2 linked regions of the Homo sapiens genome follow. The protein of the gene in region 2 purifies or fractionates together with the protein of the main gene of each other region. This does not show direct contact. Each region holds a gene or a part of one and is shown on either strand. Other genes may lie near its edges.

Region 1 (3,750 bases), on a different chromosome or scaffold from region 2:
TCCTCTTATCCTGCTTTACTTTTTCTTAAAAATATTTATCATAACGTGATACAACACACATTAATGTTCTTGTATACTGCATGTCTTTCCTTATTATAACGTAAGCTCTATGAGACTAAGGGCTGTCTCTACTGCTACTACACGTGGTTCGGTACATACAACAGTGCCTGTTACATAGTAGGTAGGCAGTAAGTATGCTGAATGAATGAATCATTTTTTTGTCCTTGAATCTGACTGTACCTTAATAAGCCTTTCCCTCTTTTGTTATGCCAGTTTGAACAGGGTTTCCTGATATATACAACCTAAGAGTTGTAAATGGTATTAACAGTTTTGTTCTCCATTTACTGTGAATATGATTTTGATCTCTAGTTCATTTCACAAAAATGATATTTCACTATATTACTGCAGTCTGGATGCACCTACTTCTCTCAGTCCTTTTTAGTTTGTACCCTTTCTAAGAATGTAAAAATATCCCAAAGTTTGTGAGCTTCACAAGGACAAAAACTGTGTCCCAATCATCTTGGTATTCCCTTGGACATGTATAGCAGAAATTAGGGCTCAGTAAATAGCTACTGAATTGAACAAAATCCCCAGGTCCTTCCCTATCTCTCCTTCGCACACTTCCTATTGCACTAGTGTTATCTTCTGAGTGGTGGCTCCTATTTGCCTTGGTCCATCCAGGACTTCTTTTGGGTTGAAACATTAAGAAAATTAGTATATTTATACTTTTTTGGCATCTCCCGTTTTTGAACAAGACTGGTTAAATGAAAATCATTTACCCATATATTAATATGGGTAAGCAAATATAGGTTCAAAAAGAAAAAGAGATGACTTCAAAAACAGTCATCTCTTTAAAAATCGAAACATCAAAAGGTTAACATAAATTAATTTCCACAATAACAACACATTCAAATGTAGTTAGGTTGAAGCTATATGTGTAAATTCATTCTTGGCACAGAATTCGATCTCCCTTCTTTTATGAATAACATCAGCTTGTAACTCCTGACCAATTTGGCAATGTATCTAAATTACGCATAATTAAAACTGTCCATAGGGCAGGCGAGGTTCCAAAGGTATGATTAAATGATTTGTAAGTATTAATATATCATAAAACAGTCAGTTGTACACCTTCCCACTGAGTCTCACGTATTTATAAATGTAGGGAGTTTTCTAGATTGTGCTGACTCACAGGAAGATAGCTGGAGTATTTTTCAAAGGTTAGGAAAAGATCTCCAAGCTGAGCTTGAAATTCAGCTCTGACACCCCGACACTCAACTCCATTCATGAACCTGATGCCTCCCTAATCGAGCAGCACCAAGCAGTTATCAGAGGCTGAGCAACAGGGGAGCTTCGATGGCCCCCATCCAAAGAAGTTCACATATTATCACAGATGTTGCACCGGGGTGGCCTCCTTTACTTTTCCCCGTAAGGTCAACCCGGGAGGAGGGGACGGTTGGGGAGGTGTAATCTCCCCTTTTACGGATGATTCTCAAGGGCGGAGACAGGAACTGTCCCAGGTTATGACCATTGGCAGCTACGGAACAAGGAAGGAGCTGGAGCCCTTCCTCCTGGGCTCTCAGCCCGGCCCCAGGCACCCCGGATCTTGCACATCCCTGGCATGAGAGATGGCCCCCTTCCAAGAGCGGTGGCCCCGGAGGCCCCAGCCCCTCCAGCAGCCCGACTCCCTCTCCCGACCCCCGCCCAGGCCGCGCCGCCCACTCTCGCACATGCGCACCTCTGGAAGGCCCCTGAATCCAGGGCCGCACGCAGGACCCAGCCAATGAGCGGGACCCCCGCCAGGTGCTTAATGTTCTTCAGGGGGATGCCTTTGCTGCCTCCCCGGGCCAGAATTAGGGCTGCCAGGTGCGGGGGCTTCTCCACACCTCGGCCCTGGCCGCCGCGAGAGTTGCGCTGCAGCTTCGGCGGCCGGCCCCGGGACGGTCGCCCCCGCGGGTTGGAGACGGAGGTGGCGGCCCCCTTCTCCACCGAGTCCATCTTCCTCCCACGCCTTCTCCCCAGCTTCTCCACATCCGGGAGCTAGTCCCTCACCACCTCAGCTCGGCGCCGCCCGATCCCCGCCTGGCAGCTGGCGCGCGCGGCCGTCCCTCGCCCCGCCCCCTCCCCCGCCCCTCGCGGTGCTCGCTGGGAATTGTAGTCCGCGGCCGCCTCGTCTGGGGCCAGTAGGCCAAGTAGGCTCTGATGAGGTGACCCCAAAACTAAGTCAAGCAGTGGGAGTCCAGAGATATTTGGAGGAAGTGCGGCTTTTGGGGTGCTTGCAAGTGTCTGTAAATTTCTAAAATTAAAAAAGAAAAAAAGTATTTATAATTGCTGAAGAACTTCCCCACTTTAGAATTGTGGTGGGTTTCCCGTTGCATACCTTGATGCACCCTGACACGAATCCATTTTATATTTTAAAATGTACATTTTAAACATACACCTTTTTTTAATGCCCCTGGGTCATTTTTTCCAAGAAATTACTGACCAGCTCATTCAAATATCCTACAGGCGCCTTAAACTCAACGTTTTAAAAACTCCATTTTTCATATGCTCTCCGCACTTTGATCGACATCAGCATTCCCTAGCAGCAGAAATTTGGAAGTCAGCTTTACTGGTCACCTCTAGTGTGGCCGACACTTGGTTTTTTGGTTTTGTTTTGTTGTCTGCTAAAAATCTTTTCCTTTTAGGAATTGATCCCTCTCTCATCCGGTGAGGGTTTCCCTCACATTCTCTGCACTGTGTGTGACCCAAGCTGGTCCATCTACGCACCCCATTTTCCTTAACACACCTGTGGTCTAGGGACAGGCATATGACCAAGCAGAGCCCACTGGAGTCCTTTCCAGAGAGTCTTGGAAAGAAAGGATCTTTCTCGTGCTGACTGGGTGCTAAGGACCTTGTTAACCTGAAGCCTCAGGGCAAGGGTAGGGTAGGGCGGCAGGGGGGCTTTGCTGTTCTGAAATGGGCTGGAAGACTGATGTTCTCCCTGAGGAAGCAGAACAATGACATGTAGGGATTAAAGAGAAAGAATTCTGGAGGCATCATTTAAACTCTTTTTTTTTTTTGAGACAGATTCTCACTGTGTCCCCCAGAAGGCTGGAGTGCAGTGGCACAATCTCGGCTCGCTGCAACCCTCTGCCACCCATTCTCAAGCGTCCTGAGTAGCTGGGATTACAGAGGGGCACCACCACACCCAGATAATTTTTGTATTTTTAGTTGAGTTGGGGGTTTCACCAGGTTGGCCAGGCTGGTCTTGAACTCCTGACCTCAAGTGATCTGCCCGCCTCAGCCTCTCAAAGTGCTGGGATTATAGGCATGAGCCGCCACGCCTGAGCATTTAAACCCTGATCCAGCCAAGAGGCTCAAAGACATACACCCACACACACCTCTCTTAGGAAAAAAAAAAAAAGAGACTTTAAAGCAGGCATCTCTGACCTAGCATGCATTTTGTCTTTCAGCATGTTTGCAAGCCTATATTTGGAAGTAGAGTCTTTTACATTTCTGAGATGGAGGCTGATACAAACAGAAAGAATGGATTGTAGTGTGTCGGCTTGCCTTCTCCCAGAGGGCAAAAGGATTTTGTACTTCTCAGGTCTTGGCCATTTTTGAGGGGAGAGAAGAAGTCTTTGATGTTTTGGGTCCTATGAGAGGTACTGGATACTTTACATCTCTTAGTCTGTGAATTAACTGAGGGCCCAGCCCTTCCTGGGACTGGTGCTGGAAGAAGGTGCTTCGTGCAGACACAGATAAGGGAGG
Region 2 (3,750 bases):
TAAAGCACAAACTCTATTTACCCAGATGATAATCATCTGGGTAAATATGAAAACGTATGATAATTATCTACTAAATGATGGAACTTCCTCAAGTTGGCAAAAAACTAGTGAAGAGAGTATTTGGGACTTATGAAGATCATTATCCTTTGCATTTGAAGATGACACTGCTGTTGGGCTCATTTGCTCTCTTTATAAGTATGGCTGAAAAGACCAATTGGTGACAGTTCTCAAGTCAACTGCACATATGGGCCATCTGTTATTAACTTAACACAAGAAGAAAAAAGTCAAGGACTCACTGTTGACAACATTCTCAAACTGGAAGAAAAAAGTACAATCTAAAGGTACTATGTGACTTTAATGCCCCCTAGTGCATGATGCATGCACCTCTCTAATACAGCATTCGGTACTTAAACTTTATAATTCATAAAGAAAATGACAGAGCCTATTAAAGCAAACGCTCACACCACTGTCAAAAATTCAATATTGGTTCTCCATATACTTGATACACTTGCTCTAACAATTTCTATTTCAAAAGCTTTCTAGTAGATTCTTCTAATAAACCGTCTCCAGTACAAATGGTTAATTCAAAAATGTCTTTCATTAGGATTTGCTCTGAGATTCTTTCCTAGTTTAATCTAAACGGATTGCATATTTTCTTAGATAAACATGCTCAGATCAGGAACTTATCTACAGGTTGATAAAGACATGAAGAGTCTTGAATGCTTAAAGAGTAATTAGTTGATCATCACTATGGTAAAAGACCAATCAATAAAGCATACAAAGGGGACTCTGACAATTACAAGGACTTTCTCTCCTGCACTGGACAATCAACCACGAATGAGAGCAGTGAATACACTCTCCCTCACCAAGGAGACATTCAGGGAGGAAACCAAGGTCAGGGAATTCTCTTGTAGTAGATGAGACACTACACCTCTGGCCCTTGTGGTCCAAAAGAGTTCATTCTCATTCTACTTTCTTCAAGCCCTTTCTACTTCCTTCACAGGGTTAGTATCTCTAAATTCAAGGCTCAGCAATAAGACTATTTTAAGCTTTAATTTATTGGACAGTTAATCAAATTCTTCTCCTCTGACTTGAATGATTTGCCACATTATTAAGTCCTCTCCACAGATGTTTTCTACTTTGAAAATTAGGGAACTTAGCCTGATACATAAGCAGCCTGGAGCTGTGGTTCTGTCTCTCCCTTTTTAAGTGCAATCCATGACTTACAACTATATTTGTCAAGATCTGAAGTAGAAAAGTCAATGACCTCATCACATCTGCAAATATTTTGGTCTTTTTTTTATGCTTAGATCAACAGCATTTCACCCAGTTCTATTCTTTCCAGTTTCCTTCCTGGAATAAGCAGGCATCATAACATTCACCATATGATTTCTTTAGTAATTTGTGAAATGTAAAGTAATCCTCAAGGTTACACCCCAAGTTTCTCTAGGCAGATTCTTTGTGGTTCTACAAAAAAGCAGCTTCCTTTTGCCTAAGAGTTCCTACTGTCCCATTCTGCAACTTTATTTCCATCCTCTAAATTCCTGCCACAGTTATCACCTCAGTATCATCTACATGTTTTTTCAATGTGTTCTTATATTCTATAACCAATTGTTAATAATCAAATATAAATCCATTATAGATAATTAGTGTTATCCCGAATAATACATGTACAGAATACTATTTGTTTCTAAGTCTGTTCTAAACTCTTACCTGTGGGCCAATCTGAAGTGCTTGATTTCCTGTTGCCCCTCTTTCTGATTCGATATTGCTCAGAGTAGTCCACCACTTCCCCCCGAGCTTTCCGCCCATCAGGGGAAGGGGTAAAAAATTTGGTAAGGCCATCAATGAGCCCTTTGGTTTTCTTGTTGAACTTCAAGGAGACATTGCTATCTCTGCAGAAGTCCAAGCCATCTATCCGCTCTAAATATCCTTCTTCTGATGATGATGATGCTGATTGGCTGGAAAGAGTGATTTTTCGTTTCCTACCCCTTCCAGGGCCAGTTCGAACTTTGCTGAAGGGACCTTTTGATCTAAACAATTAAACAGGGGAAAGGGTAAGTATTAAAAAAGATACTTGTAAGGTTCCTTTTTAATACATAACATATAATTAGTAAGTAACCTACAGCTTTATTAAAATCTATATTATTAAGAATATTCTGCAAACTATAAATAGTACTCTGTGAATGAAAATTAATATTATTATTAGAAACATCTATTGCCAGGAAGCCTACTTATAGTGCAAAGAATGACAGGCCAGGAGTCAGAAGACTTGTTCTAGTCATAATTCTCTCTTACTAGCTGTACGACTTGGACAAATCACATTTTTTCTAAACATATGTCAGTGCCTTCATCTGTAAAATGAGAACTGGACTAAGAACAACTAAGATCCTTCCAGGTATAAAGTTCTACTACACTGTGATCTCTGCACCAACTGAAAGTTATACTTTTATCTCTAAAACACAAGGATGGGTTATTCTTCGAAGGCCAGGAATCAAAAGATCATTTTATAGGAAAATCAAAGCTTGATTTAAGATTTTGAATATAGACTACAATATTGGTTCTGTACATTTCAGGCTGCTAATGCCCATTCATTTCAGTTATATCACCTTCAAGATAGTCTTACGTGTAAAAAAAGTAAGTAAAACTTTTGATAATAAAGGGAGGTTGACAAGCCTGAAGACGTTTACATATCATCAAAGGTGAGTTACTACAGACATTTTTAAAAAGACAAAACTAGCTACTGAATCTTGCCCCACCTCCTCCAGACATAGCCCAGCTTTCTAGTCCACAATTTCTGATTTCTGCTAATAGATGAAAACATTCAAATTATTTTACATCCAAAGAACACAAAAATGGGACTTAGCCATCACCTCAATAGGAAGAACCTATCCAGTGATTTGTACACCTAATAGATATTAACAACTGAGACAAGATCAGGAGAGTGACATGTGAAATGTCACAGTAACAACTTTTTCTTTCCTGTTTTTATATAAGAGAAGCAACATAAAGCAATGGTTAAGAGTCAGACTTTGGTGCCAGACTACTCGGATTTTCATCCCAGTTCAACATTTACTATGCCTTAGTTTCTTCCTTTGAAAAATGAAAGTAACAGCAGCAGCTATATTTCACTGGGTTGTTGGCAGAATTAAACAATTCAATGCATATAAAGCACTTAGAATAGTGTCTGGCACTTATTAAGGGCTGAATAAGTGTTAGCCATTATTATTATATAAAAGTGCCAGATATGACAATGGAATTTTTTTCATAGAGAAAACAAGTGAATCCTACACTATAGAGAAGACCCTATCCTTTTCTCCCCTCACCTTGCCACAAGTACAACTTACACCGTGTTTTGTTTCTTTAACCTGTTTTTTGGACGTCCTATTGGATTAGTATAGCGCCGTTTTATCTGTGCTGCCTTCTTTTGTAGAAGTTTTCGTCCTTTTTTCCTAGGTCGACATATTTGACATATCCACATGCCTATAAAAAAATAAAATTCCACATAGAAGTGTGACAGACATAAATACACTGAAAGGTTTCAGATAGTCTTAAGTCAGGATCTTAACTTTTTCAGGTAAAAGACTGTCATTAGAAAATCTGATGAATACCCCCTCCAATCCAAAATAAACATTAAAACATATACACACAAAATTCTACAAATAATTGGAAGAGACTCACATACACCTTCAAGCCTGCACTGGAAGTCCACTGACTGCACTTGAAGTCCACTGAGGCTGAGGCGGGTGG

What was found.
Region 1: the proteins of KAT6A (region 2) and CMAS purify together in Homo sapiens (affinity purification with mass spectrometry, with the first as the bait; 2 studies listed by BioGRID). This does not show direct contact.

What each region holds. Positions count from the first base shown.
Region 1 is NC_000012.12:22,044,549-22,048,298, reverse strand, and holds the start of CMAS (N-acylneuraminate cytidylyltransferase), read right to left. Parts: upstream 2,082-3,750; 5' UTR 1,996-2,081; coding exon 1,736-1,995; intron 1-1,735. UniProt on the Homo sapiens protein: Catalyzes the activation of N-acetylneuraminic acid (NeuNAc) to cytidine 5'-monophosphate N-acetylneuraminic acid (CMP-NeuNAc), a substrate required for the addition of sialic acid.
Region 2 is NC_000008.11:41,975,295-41,979,044, forward strand, and holds part of KAT6A (histone acetyltransferase KAT6A), read right to left. Parts: intron 3,484-3,750; coding exon 3,348-3,483; intron 2,034-3,347; coding exon 1,714-2,033; intron 1-1,713. UniProt on the Homo sapiens protein: Histone acetyltransferase that acetylates lysine residues in histone H3 and histone H4 (in vitro). Component of the MOZ/MORF complex which has a histone H3 acetyltransferase activity. May act as a transcriptional coactivator for RUNX1 and RUNX2.